Homo sapiens: one gene and its partners. The protein of the gene in region 4 purifies or fractionates together with the protein of the main gene of each other region. This does not show direct contact. Each region holds a gene or a part of one and is shown on either strand. Other genes may lie near its edges.

The links. Proteins that work in one complex are often made in the same cells at the same time.
Region 1: the proteins of DSG1 (region 4) and SULF2 purify together in Homo sapiens (co-immunoprecipitation; one large-scale study listed by IntAct). This does not show direct contact.
Region 2: the proteins of DSG1 (region 4) and CSTA purify together in Homo sapiens (affinity purification with mass spectrometry, with the first as the bait; one large-scale study listed by BioGRID). This does not show direct contact.
Region 3: the proteins of DSG1 (region 4) and SERPINB12 purify together in Homo sapiens (affinity purification with mass spectrometry, with the first as the bait; one large-scale study listed by BioGRID). This does not show direct contact.

The regions. Positions count from the first base shown.
Region 1 is NC_000020.11:47,663,482-47,666,981, reverse strand, and holds part of SULF2 (extracellular sulfatase Sulf-2 isoform a precursor), read left to right. Parts: intron 1-493; coding exon 494-722; intron 723-824; coding exon of another isoform or gene 825-894; intron 895-1,025; coding exon of another isoform or gene 1,026-1,028; coding exon 1,029-1,125; intron 1,126-1,688; coding exon 1,689-1,783; intron 1,784-2,792; coding exon 2,793-2,852; intron 2,853-3,359; coding exon 3,360-3,500. UniProt on the Homo sapiens protein: Exhibits arylsulfatase activity and highly specific endoglucosamine-6-sulfatase activity. It can remove sulfate from the C-6 position of glucosamine within specific subregions of intact heparin.
Region 2 is NC_000003.12:122,331,748-122,335,247, reverse strand, and holds part of CSTA (cystatin-A), read right to left. Parts: intron 1-3,500. UniProt on the Homo sapiens protein: This is an intracellular thiol proteinase inhibitor. Has an important role in desmosome-mediated cell-cell adhesion in the lower levels of the epidermis.
Region 3 is NC_000018.10:63,559,369-63,562,868, forward strand, and holds part of SERPINB12 (serpin B12), read left to right. Parts: intron 1-209; coding exon 210-350; intron 351-1,716; coding exon 1,717-1,834; intron 1,835-3,500. UniProt on the Homo sapiens protein: Inhibits trypsin and plasmin, but not thrombin, coagulation factor Xa, or urokinase-type plasminogen activator. May play a role in cell differentiation.
Region 4 is NC_000018.10:31,349,160-31,352,659, reverse strand, and holds part of DSG1 (desmoglein-1 preproprotein), read right to left. Parts: intron 1-3,500. UniProt on the Homo sapiens protein: Component of intercellular desmosome junctions. Involved in the interaction of plaque proteins and intermediate filaments mediating cell-cell adhesion.

The DNA of each region.
Region 1 (3,500 bases), on a different chromosome or scaffold from region 4:
TCCCCCAGCCCCTGGCAATCACCAATCTTCTTTCTGCCGCTATAGATTTACCTATTCTGGGTAGTTCCTATAAATAGAATGTAACAATACGAGCCCGCTTTGTGTCTGGCTGGTTTCACTCCGCCTGCTTTTGACATTCATCCACGCTCTAGCGTGAATCAGAACCTCGCTCCTGGTTCTGGTCGCATATTCCGTTGTACAGATGATGTACCGCCATTTGTTTACCCGCAAGCAGCTCTCGCTTGAAATCCTCTTGAGTCAGTGGCTTCTTGGCTCCAGGACTTCCGTCTTGCCGGTGTGATCACCTCGAGGCCCTCCCCTGCGGTCCAGGATCTGCGAGCAGGCGGGTAGATTCCACGACCCCTCGAGTCGCAGGCAAAGCTGAGCCTCATGCTTGGAAGCCCGGCCCTATCTTGATGAAGGACCCACTGCCCTGGGAGCCTGGCCAGCCTTTCCTGCCTCCCTAACTCTGCCACTCCTCTAATGCCCACAGAGTACAAGGCCAGCTATGTCCGCAGTCGCTCCATCCGCTCAGTGGCCATCGAGGTGGACGGCAGGGTGTACCACGTAGGCCTGGGTGATGCCGCCCAGCCCCGAAACCTCACCAAGCGGCACTGGCCAGGGGCCCCTGAGGACCAAGATGACAAGGATGGTGGGGACTTCAGTGGCACTGGAGGCCTTCCCGACTACTCAGCCGCCAACCCCATTAAAGTGACACATCGGTGAGTGTCCAGGTGGAAGTCGAGGGTGAAGGGGACAGGACAGACCTCGGCAAAGGGCTTCCCACACCTCTTGGGCCCCTGAGGACCAAGATGACAAGGATGGTGGGGACTTCAGTGGCACTGGAGGCCTTCCCGACTATTCAGCCGCCAACCCCATTAAAGTGACACATCGGTGAGTGTCCAGGTGGAAGTCGAGGGTGAAGGGGACAGGACAGACCTCGGCAAGGGCTTCCCACACCTCTTGGGCACCTGGGCTGCTCCCCCTCCACCACCTCCGAGCCACACGTGATCCCTTCTCTCAAGCAGGTGCTACATCCTAGAGAACGACACAGTCCAGTGTGACCTGGACCTGTACAAGTCCCTGCAGGCCTGGAAAGACCACAAGCTGCACATCGACCACGAGGTGAGTGGAGAGCGGGAGAGGAGCATGCTCTCGGCCACCACGGGCCTGGCAGGACCCCCGGTTCACAGTGGGAGGGCAGTGAGGCCAGACCCAGGGAAGAGGCTGGAGAGGTGAAGTGAGGTCCCCACAGATTCCTCAACGCGGGGATAGGTGTCAGTCCCAGCATGAGACAGATAGCTTCCTGCCCAGGCCGTCTGAGGGACGATGGCTTAGCCACGTTGTCCCCCTTTTGACTTACAAGAAGTCTACGCTACAGGAGGCCTTTCATCAAACCCAGGGGAGACACTGGAGGCCTCAGTGGGCTCAGCGGGTTCCTGCGCAGGCCAGGCCGGAAAAATGACTCGGTTCCCTTGCAAGGGCTGGCTGGAGGAGAAGGCGGGCTTCCTTCAGGCAGAACAAGTACCTCCTCCCCACCCAGACATGCCGGTGCTTGCCCTGGGGCCCGGGGAGTGCAGGCTGCCGCTGCTGAGCACAGACACGGCAGCGTGGGGGCAGTCACCAGGCCAAGTCTTTGTTGTCCAGCCTTGAAGGTTTCAAGGCCTCCTCTTCTGCCCCTCCCTCAGATTGAAACCCTGCAGAACAAAATTAAGAACCTGAGGGAAGTCCGAGGTCACCTGAAGAAAAAGCGGCCAGAAGAATGTGACTGTCACAAAATCAGGTGAGGCAGTAGCAAAGGGACCTCCCTAAGACCCCACTCTCCTACAGGACAGTTCAGTTCATCCCCTCTCGTGATTGACCCCTTTCATTTTTTATTTTTATCTTTATCTTCTCCCCTCATGGCATTAAAAAAATCCGTAATTTACCTCCCTGTTGTCAGCCAGTGTGGCACACGGACCTGCTCCTCAGCCAGGCTGGCGCCCAGATTCCAGTACTGCTAGCAAGAGACCCGTGCTGGCTGCGCAGAGCCGGCTCCAGGCCGGAAAAGTGCCTCTGCCGATTGCCCTTTCAGAAATCCCCCATGTGGTTTGAGGTCCATGTTCCCGGCTTAGGGGTCCCCTGGCCCAAAGGACTGAACTCTAGAACAGCTCTAATAGAACATTCTGTGCTGACGGAAATGGGCTATATCTGCACTACACCACACGTGGCTGGTGCATACTTAAAATTTTGGCTAGTGTCACTAAGGAGCCAAATTTTTTATTTTGCTTAATTCAAATTGAAGTAGCCACCTGTGGCCAGTGGCTACCATACTGGACAGCACAGCTGTAGAAGCCCTGCTGTCTTTCCAGAAAGTGTTGCAAAACACAGGCTTCCCTGTGTTGACCCCGACCAAGTGTGAGTAGGCAGGGTGGTGAGGGAACCAACCTCAAGATGCTGAGGCTTTGACATGTAAAATTAACCATCAAAAAAGAAAGGAAAAAGGATGCTGAGGCTGATGCACCTAAAGCCAGGCCCAGCTTCTAGTCGTGGCTAAATTACAATTAACCCAACCTGCTAAAGTCTAGCAAAAGTCCAGGCAGAGTCCTGGCTCATGCTTGGAGAAAGAAGCCACTCAGGCAGGCACCTGCTGCCCTGAGGATAGGGTCATGCCCTACCCACCACCACCCCAGAAGGAGGGACAGGGGTGGGGCAGCAGCAACACATGGGAGTCCCAGAAATCACAGCTTGCACCTGCCAGCGGAGCCCTCTGAGCCACTCCTGAAGCCTGGGGCTGGGGGGGTCTGTTACAGCTACCACACCCAGCACAAAGGCCGCCTCAAGCACAGAGGCTCCAGTCTGCATCCTTTCAGGTAAGAGCAGCTTGAGGTCCTGGGGAAGAGATGCAGAGGCCTGCATGAGGAGGTGGCCCTCCCTTAAGCTAAAACTCAGAAGAAAAGGAAAGAAGTCCAGGCCCTTCCCTGGGAAGTCCACGGTAGCCCTCGAAGAGGCCTTACTTCCCAATCAACACTGAGCGGGCCTCCGACGCCCCCTTGTGGCTAAATGGGGTTACCGCAACTCCACCAAGCAGGGCAGGACACAGGAAGGAGGGGAAAGGGGTGTCAACAGGAGTCCCAGTAGCTGCCTGGTTCTGTCCCCAGCTTGTGCCCCCTTGGGAGTTAAAGTAGAATGACAAGACCCAGGTTCTGGTCCCGGCTCTGCCTTGGAGCAGCACTGGGACTTGGGACCCTGAATTGCTATGCCCATGGCTCTCTGTTGGAGAAGCCTCAGCGAAGCCCTTAGGTGGACAGGAAGAGCAGAGACATGGGGTCACTGATCCCTCAGAGGCCCAAGGTGTGTGTGGCCCTCTGCGCCCATAGGAAGGGCCTGCAAGAGAAGGACAAGGTGTGGCTGTTGCGGGAGCAGAAGCGCAAGAAGAAACTCCGCAAGCTGCTCAAGCGCCTGCAGAACAACGACACGTGCAGCATGCCAGGCCTCACGTGCTTCACCCACGACAACCA
Region 2 (3,500 bases), on a different chromosome or scaffold from region 4:
ATCTTTGGAGGGCCATCATTCTGTCTACCATGGAGGGATATGGGTTGGGTTTAAATGTCAGCATTCCCGAACCCAGCATGAGAAGGGAGACAGTCCCAAATTCAATATGTAAACTTTTACTGAGCCCATCAACTTTCTGTACAGTGCTTCATTCCCACTCTCAGCTGGGCCTGATATGCAAGAGTCTACTATGAGCTCTTGACTCAGTTCCTGCTAAGTGTAAAGCTCGTCTTCTGCCGGGGTGGAGGACAGTGAGGGAGAAGGAACTATGGGAGGTCTCACTGTCCTTCATACAGATCAGTCCTCTTGCTTTTGGTCTGAGACCTTACTCCTGGCTACGACTTTTTGGTGTTGCTCATGCCTGCGCCATTGTGACGTTCTGCAGTGTGAATCTGCTTGCTTCTGGCTTAGACTTTCCCCTCTATGGGCTTAGCTTCTGTTTAGACTGCTCAGCATTTTCCATTGTTCATCTGTTTTCCAACTTCCAAAATTTTATTGGTATTTCTGAGGTGGTACTTGCCTATCTCCTGTTGTCTTTATGTCTGTGGATTTGTCCTTCAACCCCAATTCTTTTCTGTCTTTTGGAGGAAAAAGGATATAACTCTCTGTGTTGAATGTACCTTGTTTATTGAGAACTTGCTTTTATGCCCTTCATGAAAGCATTGCATGTCCATACAACTTCAATCAGGCCTCCAGTCCATCTAGGATTCTCCCAAGGCAGTCCTTCCTATCAGTGGGCAGGTTTTTTTTGTTTTTTGTTTTTTTAAATTTAAGAGACAGAATCTCCCCCTCACCCAGGCTGGAGTGCAGTGGCGTGATCATAGTTCACTGCAGCCTCGAATTCCCGGACTCAAACAATCCTCCCTGGGCAGATGTTTTGAACCTTTACTACTGATGCCTCAGTTTGAGTACCAGAACTGTTTTCAAAGATGTAGACATATGCAAACTGTGAGTTCTCAGACCATTTCTGAAAGGCCAAACACTCCACGGACCACCACTCAGTTCTCCTGTAACCTTGAGAATAGACGGGAAAAGTGTGATTGTTCTGTTGAGATGGAAATGAAATTTCAAAGTGGAGAAAGGGAGAAGACAAATAGTGAGGACAAACCAGAAGTGGGAAGAGCTAGGGGCAGGAGAGCGGAGAAAGGATGCACAGAGAAGTAGAGTAAGGAAACAGGTTATTGTCTTAGGGTCCCTTTCCAAAGCCTTTCAAAATTCCAAAGGAGGGATGGCCAGTACTTGGCACCAGTCAAGTTAGGAGCTGAGTTTGAAAGAGTTAATCTCTACACTAACCCCCAAAGTATCCATTTAAACCTCATTTTATGAATGGAGAATGTAAGGCTATGAGTTGAGCATGACTGCTTAAAGTTGAAAAATTATTCAACATAGTTATTTTAAAGTCCTTGCATGATAACTTATATATCTGATCTGTGTTCCTTCTGCTTTTCAGTCATGTTTCTTTTTAAGCACGTATCCTAAGCCAACCAGCCTTTCTTTTCTTTTCTTTCTTTCTCTTTCTTTCTTTCTCTTTCTTTCTTTTTCTTTCTTTCTCTCTCTCTTTCTTTCTTCTTTCTTTCTTCCTTTTTTCTTCCTTTCCTTTCCTTTTCCTTCCTTCCTTTCCTTTCCTTTTCCTTCCTTCCTCTCTCTCTCTTTCTTCTTTCTTTCTTTCTTTCTTTCTTTCTTTCTTTCTTTCTTTCTTTCTTTCTTCTTTCTTTTCTTTCTTTCTTCTCTCTCTCTTTCATGGAGTCTTGCTCTGTCACCTAGGCTGGAGTGTAGTGGCACAATCTCAGCTCACTACAACCTCTCCCTCCTGGGTTTAAGCAATTCTCCTGCCTCAGCCTCATGAGTAGCTGGGACTACAGGCATCTGCCACCACTCCCAGCTAATTTTTTATATTTTTGGAGAGATGGAGTTTCACCATGTTTGCCAGGCTGGTCTCAAACTCCTGGCCTCAGGTGATCCACCCACCTTGGTCTCCCAAAGTGCTGGGATTACAGGGGTGAGCCCCCATGCCTGGCCCTAAGTTTTTATTTCTATCTGTCCTAGAAATATATCCAAATCTTTAACTTTTCCATCGTATCTGTGTAATCCACAAATGCAGAATTTTCCATGAGAGAGGGGATTTAAAAGATCTGGTTTGTTTCTTGAAGTGTTCTGGCACCTGTCAGACTGTGGACCTTGATTTCTGGTTCACTCTACTTGTAACTTGCAGCCTCCCTCCCTCTTCCCAGTAAAATAGATTTGCATGGTTTAATGTTAGATGACATGGACCTGAGTGATGAGATTTGAGCTGAGGAGCAGGGAAAGGGGCAGAGTAGGGGAGCTTGTCAGTGAAACTTAAGTCTCAGAAGGTAGCTTGGTGCTGAAAGACTCCCCAGGATGGGCACTAGGAGGATGCAGGCCAGCTGGGAACGGTGGTGGGAGACTGGCGGTGAACGGACACATCTCCTGCTGAATGCAGTTGGCCTTCACCTTTCTCAGTCTGCCACGCGTGATGGTGACGGGAGCTCAAGGAATACAGTGGAGGTTTGTCGCTTGGTCTCCAGCCGGGGAGGAGGCTACCAGGGAGAAGCACCTGGTATAATGCATTTAACCCAGAGTTCTTCAAGCATTTCTCATTGCTACTGAGCATGAATCTTGGTGAGGTGTTTATTCTCTGAGATCTGAGGATTTGAGCCATGAGGCACCCAACACTCAGGCTTTTCCCCTAATCTGTAGTCATTCTACAGAAACAATAGGACTGTGCCTAATTTAATAGAAAATAGATAGAAAGATATTGATGGCAAAGTGGATGAATTACATTTGGGGGAGATTTAGAGAGTAAGGAAGGAGAGTTTGAATAGTAACATGAAAGGACAGTAGGGCCAGTAAGATGTGACTTGTGGACATTTATTGTCTAAGTATGTTTTGAAGGAAGAAGGAAGTATGGGACAAGGCATTGAGGATGCAAGAAATGAAGTCACCTGGCTAAGAGAGGAAGGACTGGCTGAAGAGAGGAGAATAGAGTCTAGGGAGGAATGAGATCCAGCAAGAGATAGGGTCAGCTGGGGCATTTTCTTACCAGAGATCTGCAATCTCCTAAGACAGGTGTTCCCAACCCCTGGGCTGCAGACCAGTACCCATCCATGGCCTGTTAGGAATCGGGCTGCACAGCAGGAGGGGAGCAGTGGGCCAGTGAGCATTATGGCCTGAGCTCCGCCTCCTGTCAGATTAGCGGCAGCATTAGATTCTCATAGGAGTGGGAACCCTATTGTGAACTGCATGCAAAGGATCAAGGTTGCGTGCTCCTTATGAGAAAATAATGCCTGATGATCTGAGGTGGAACAGCTTCATCCCAAAACTATCCCCTCCACCCCATCTGTGGAAAAATTGCCTTCCACAAAGGTACCAAAAAGGTTGGGGACAGCTGGCCTAAGAAGAGTAGGAACTGAGACATCCTGCTGGAGGGACCATGGGGGTGGGAGGCAATGAACAACTGAAGAGAGATTTACATTTGTGGG
Region 3 (3,500 bases), about 32 Mb from region 4:
TGTGGGAGCCATAATCTTCCACTGGGACCACTTCTCACCCTCCATTCCTCTGTTCTTCCCAGCTCACTTCCCCCAGCATGGTAACAGAGACAGCTGACATCTTACTAAGAAGCTCTATCTTGCTTCTGTACAAAACACGCATCTTTTAGCGGTGTTTAGCTCTTCTGATAGACACAGTGAAGGTCACATTTTGTTTCTTCTTTCCTTAGGCTGGGTCCTTAAACAATGAGAGCGGACTGGTCAGCTGCTACTTTGGGCAGCTTCTCTCCAAATTAGACAGGATCAAGACTGATTACACACTGAGTATTGCCAACAGGCTTTATGGAGAGCAGGAATTCCCAATCTGTCAGGTGAGTTGCACACGAATGGTGACTAAAGCTACCATGTAGCATACTATTTAAAAATCAGGGAGTAGCTGGGTTACTCACCTGCCATCTAGAACACAAACCTCTTTGACAGGATGATGCGCTGTGGACTGGTGAGGTGTCCAGGACCTCCCTCTTTCAGTCCCACAGTTTTCTTCTCTTCCCAGTGTTCAATGTGAGCAGTTTACGGGGCCCATTGTGGGTGGAATAGAGTGGGTGGGAAAAGGTTGTGTGAGTAATGGAGGCTTTGGAGCACGTGTGGGCTTGGTAATGGCATCCTCTCCTGACTGTCTTCCCCAGTCAATGTGCCTGGTTGCTGCACTTCTCTCTCCCTTATCTGTTAGGTGCCCCCAAGACATTTCTGTGGAATCTCCTTTTGTGCCAGGATCAGGCTACCCCCGCAATGCAATTGTGTTCACTATGCTCTTTTGAGAGTGGGGTAGCAGGAGGAGACTGCGTTTTGGCATTTGGAGCTGAAAGGCACAGGACTTGTGTCTGTGGCTAAACAGCTTCGTACCTAGAGCAAGCTGTGTCTCCATCTGGGCTTCAGTTTCCTTTTGAATCACTAGAAGGAGCCATGTGCTAAATAATAAATGTGGGGGATATGACCAATGGCAAAGACGTGACATGGTTGGTTAGAGCAGGACTAGCCAGGGGTTGGGTGGCCTCCTTTGGCCAAAATAAGTGTGTTTCCTTGCAATGAAAGTAAGATTTTTCATGCTGGATTTTTAAAAACTAGCCTTTTGATGAGCTATAAATTCATATATTAAACAATTCACCTGTTAAAAGTACACAAACCAATGGGTTTGGTATATTACATTACTGATTTTTTAAAATTATAGTAAAATACATATAAAATTTACCATTTATGTGTACATTTCAGTAGCATTACTTACATTCACAATGTTGTGTAACCATCACCTTATCTATTTCTAAAACTTTTTTTTTCATCACTCTAAACAGAAACTCTGCAACCATTAAGCGGGAGTTTAATTCTTAAAAACAGAAGCATTTTCCAGCCAAGTCTCTCAAGTTACTTGATACTTACCTTGTGATGGCTCCACAGATGGTTTGTTGAAATAAAAGGATATCCAGTAGGAAAGGCTTGTCCCGTTGTAACTATAGACTGTTCATGAATAATATTTGATATCCTCATTTTTCACTAAAAAAACTGAAATGTCTCTGGCTAGTTTAAGACTGGGGATGGCTAGAAACTGTCAGGCCTGTCCATGAAATGTGAAATGACCAGGCTCATCTTTCTTGGGAGACTTCTCAGGAGAGTCTCACTCCTAACTACGAGCATCACTGCCTGACTTTATTGCATTATTTCCCTTTTATTCCAATGGAACAGGAATACTTAGATGGTGTGATTCAATTTTACCACACGACGATTGAAAGTGTTGATTTCCAAAAAAACCCTGAAAAATCCAGACAAGAGATTAACTTCTGGGTTGAATGTCAATCCCAAGGTAAGAAAGCCCAAAAGCACGGGAGCTGGTATTGGTTTCCATTTAAAAGAAAATTGGTCTGCCTAGCTTTGCAGACTGCTGGTCTACTGGGGGCCAGAGGTTCACATATGTGGACTGTGTTCAAAGCATGGTTTGCAGAATGAGATACCATCTCACACCAGTCAGAATGACTATTATTAAAAAGTTAAAAAACGACAGATTCTGTCAAGGCTTCAGATAAAGGGGAACACTTATACACTATTGGTGGGAATGTAAATTAGCCATTGTGGAAAGTAGTTTGGAAATTTCTCAGAGTTAAAACAGAGCTGTCATTCGACCCAGCAATCCCATTACTGAGTATATATCCAAAGAAATAGAGATCATTCTACCAAAAAGACATATGCACTCATATGTTCATCACCACACTATTCACAATAGCAAAGACATGGAATTAACCTAAGTGTCCATCAATAGTGGGTTGGATAAAGAAAATGTGGTACATATACACCATGGAATACTACACAGCCATCAAAAAGAATGAAATCATGTCCTTTGCAGTAACATGATGGAAATGGAGGCCATAATCCTATGAATTAACACAGGAACAGAAAGGCAAACATTGTTCTCACTTATAAGTGGGAGCTAAACATTGAGGACACACAGACATAAATATGGCAAGGAACAATGAACCCTCCAGATACTAACTTGGGTCAGGGAGGGAGAGAGGAATGGGTTGAAAAACTACCTATAGGGTACTATGCCTACTATCTGTGAGCAACATGCCATGTAACAAACCTGCACATGTACTTCCTGTATCTAAAATAAAAGCTGAAATTTAAAAAAAAACAAAACAAAAAAGCATGGTCTGAACAGCATCAAACAGTTAAACTGCTTAGATATTGCTGTTATTTATTATTGCAGTTTTGGTCTCTGGTCTTGCTGGCTCTGGGCGGGAAAGGAGGACACCAGCCTCGTTAGTGCTGATCTTCTAGGTGGGGCTTAGAGAATGCTCCCTTCTACCGGTGCCCGTGTGAATTTGAAAAACAGAATAAACTCTTCCCTCCAGGACCAAAGTTAGTGACCTGAAGGGTCAGGTCAGGCTGCTGGACATAGACTAGGCCCCTTTTTGATCATCGTGTGGGGCTGGCGAAGGTGTTCGTGTACAGTGAAAAGTTTGGAGTGCATGAGAGAGCACAGGTAGTGCATTATGTCTCCTGCCTTCAGAGTGAGACCATGACCCCAGGCATTTGCATACATTTTGAGTGGCTGGAGGCTGGGAAATGACAGTTGACTTATTTTAGGCTGTCCTTGGTACCAGAGTGACAGTTTCGGTTCCTCCCTTCCATTTGGTGGCTTTCTCTCCCTGTCTCCTCTTTTTCTCACACTGACTTAGGGATGGGATACCCCTGCCTGCCTTTCCTTGGGAGAAGTCTCTAAATTCCAAAATTATTGCTTTTTCCTTCTTTCATAGGCCATAAAAATGACCATTCTTTCAAGGCTCTACTCAGCTGTCAAAAGGAAAGCAATTCATTAATGAAGCTCATATTAAGGCCTGGATATGTACTTTCCCCTTAGTGAGTTAACTCCTCCAGAAAATTTGAAATGTAGATGATGTCAACCTAATCTATTATTATGGGATTTAAATAGAGCTCTTCTTGAGATGGAAGATCTTTTCTTCTTAAGACAT
Region 4 (3,500 bases):
AAGCCTCCAAGAAATATGGGACTATGTGAAAAGACCAAATCTACGTCTGATTGGTGTACCTAAAAGTGATGGGGAGAATGGAACCAAGTTGGAAAACACTCTGTAGGATATTATCCAGGAGAACTTCCCCAATCTAGCAAGGCAGGCCAACGTTCAGATTCAGAAAATACAGAGAATGCCACAAAGATACTCCTCGAGAAGAGCAACTCCAAGACACATAATTGTCAGATTCACCAAAGTTGAAATGAAGGAAAAAATGTTAAGGGCAGCCAGAGAGAAAGGTCGGGTTACCCTCAAAGGGAAGCCCATCAGACTAACAGCAGATCTCTCAGCAGAAACCCTACAAGCCAGAAGAGAGTGGGGGCCAATATTCAACATTCTTAAAGGAAAGAATTTTCAACCCAGAATTTCATATCCAGCCAAACTAAGCTTCATAAGTGAAGGAGAAATAAAATCCTTTACAGACAAGCAAATGCTGAGAGATTTTGTCACCACCAGGCCTGCCTTACAAGAGCTCCTGAAGGAAGCACTAAACATGGAAAGGAACAACCGGTACCAGCTGCTGCAAAATCATGCCAAAATGTAAAGACCATCGAGACTAGGAAGAAACTGCATCAACTAACGAGCAAAATAACCAGCTAACATCATCATGACAGGATCAAATTCACACATAGCAATATTAACTTTAAATGTAAATGGACTAAATGCTCCAATTAAAAGACACAGACTGGCAAATTGGATAAAGAGTCAAGACCCATCAGTGTGCTGTATTCAGGAAACCCATCTCACGTGCAGAGACACACATAGGCTCAAAATAAAAGGGTGGAGGAAGATCTACCCAGCCAATGGAAAACAAAAAAAGGCAGGGGTTGCAATCCTAGTCTCTGATAAAACAGACTTTAAACCAACAAAGATCAAAAGAGACAAAGAAGGCCATTACATAATGGTAAAGGGATCAATTCAACAAGAAGAGCTAACTATCCTAAATATATATGCACCCAATACAGGAGCACCAAGATTCATAAAGCAAATCCTGAGTGACCTACAAAGAGACTTAGACTCCCACACATTAATAATGGGAGACTTTAACACCCCACTGTCAACATTAGACAGATCAACGAGACAGAAAGTCAACAAGGATACCCAGGAATTGAACTCAGCTCTGCACCAGGCGGACCTAATAGACATCTACAGAACTCTCCACCCCAAATCAACAGAATATACATTTTTTTCAGCACCACACCACACCTATTCCAAAATTGACCACATACTGGGAAGTAAAGCTCTCCTCAGCAAATGTAAAAGAACGGAAATTATAACAAACTATCTCTCAGACCACAGTGCAATCAAACTAGAACTCAGGATTAAGAATCTCACTTAAAACCGCTCAACTACATGGAAACTGAACAACCTGCTCCTGAATGACTACTGGGTACATAACGAAATGAAGGCAGAAATAAAGATGTTCTTTGAAACCAACGAGAACAAAGACACAACATACCAGAATCTCTGGGACGCATTCAAAGCAGTGTGTAGAGGGAAATTTATAGCACTAAATGCCCACAAGAGAAAGCAGGAAAGATCCCAAATTGACACCCTAACATCACAATTAAAAGAACTAGAAAAGCAAGAGCAAACACATTCAAAAGCTAGCAGAAGGCAAGAAATAACTAAGATCAGAGCAGAACTGAAGGAAATAGAGACACAAAAAACCCTTCAAAAAATTAATGAATCCAGGAACTGGTTTTTTGAAAGGGTCAACAAAATTGATAGACTGCTAGCAAGACTAATAAAGAAAAAAAGAGAGAAGAATCAAATAGATGCAATAAAAAATGATAAAGGGGATATCACCACTGATCCCACAGAAATACAAACTACCATCAGAGAATACTACAAACACCTCTACGCAAATAAACTAGAAAATCTAGAAGAAATGGATAAATTCTTGGACACATACACTCTCCCAAGACTAAACCAGGTAGAAGTTGAATCTCTGAATAGACCAATAACAGGAGCTGAAATTGTGGCAATAATCAATAGCTTACCAATCAAAAAGAGTCCAGGACCAGATGGATTCACAGCCGAATTCTACCAGAGGTACAAGGAGGAACTGGTACCATTCCTTCTGAAACTATTCCAATCAATAGAAAAAGAGAGAATCCTCCCTAACTCATTTTATGAGGCCAGCATCATTCTGATACCAAAGCCAGGCAGAGACACAACAAAAAAAGAGAATTTTAGACCAATATCCTTGATGAACATTGATGCAAAAATCCTCAATAAAATACTGGCAAAACGAATCCAGCAGCACATCAAAAAGCTTATCCACCATGATCAAGTGGGCTTCATCCCTGGGATGCAAGGCTGGTTCAATATACGCAAATCAATAAATGTAATCCAGCATATAAATAGAGCCAAAGACAAAAACCACATGATTATCTCAATAGATGCAGAAAAAGCCTTTGACAAAATTCAACAACCCTTCATGCTAAAAACTCTCAATAAATTAGGTATTGATGGGACGTATTTCAAAATAATAAGAGCTATCTATGACAAACCCACAGCCAGTATCATACTGAATGGGCAAAAACTGGAAGCATTCCCTTTGAAAACTGGCACAAGACAGGGATGCCCTCTCTCACCACTCCTATTCAACATAGTGTTGGAAGTTCTGGCCAGGGCAATTAGGCAGGAGAAGGAAATAAAGGGTATTCAATTAGGAAAAGAGGAAGTCAAATTGTCCCTGTTTGCAGACGACATGATTGTATATCTAGAAAACCCCATTGTCTCAGCCCAAAATCTCCTTAAGCTGATAAGCAACTTCAGCAAAGTCTCAGGATACAAAATCAATGTATAAAAATCACAAGCATTCTTATACACCAACAACAGACAAACAGAGAGACAAATCATGAGTGAACTCCCATTCACAATTGCTTCAAAGAGAATAAAATACCTAGGAATCCAACTTACAAGGGATGTGAAGGACCTCTTCAAGGAGAACTACAAACCACTGCTCAAGGAAATAAAAGAGGACACAAACAAATGGAAGAACATTCCATGCTCATGGGTAGGAAGAATCAATATCGTGAAAATGGCCATACTGCCCAAGGTAATTTACAGATTCAATGCCATCCCCATCAAGCTACCAATGACTTTCTTCACAGAATTGGAAAAAACTACTTTAAAGTTCATATGGAACCAAAAAAGGAGCCCGCATCGCCACGTCAATCCTAAGCCAAAAGAACAAAGCTGGAGGCATCACACTACCTGACTTCAAACTATACTATAAGGCTACAGTAACCAAAACAGCATGGTACTGGTACCAAAACAGAGATATAGATCAATGGAACAGAACAGAGCCCTCAGAAATAACACCGCATATCTACAACTATCTGATCTTTGACAAACCTGAGAAAAACAAGCAATGGGGAAAGGATTCCCTATTTAATAAATGGTGCTGGGAAAACTGGCTAGCCATATGTAGAAAGGTGAAACTGGAT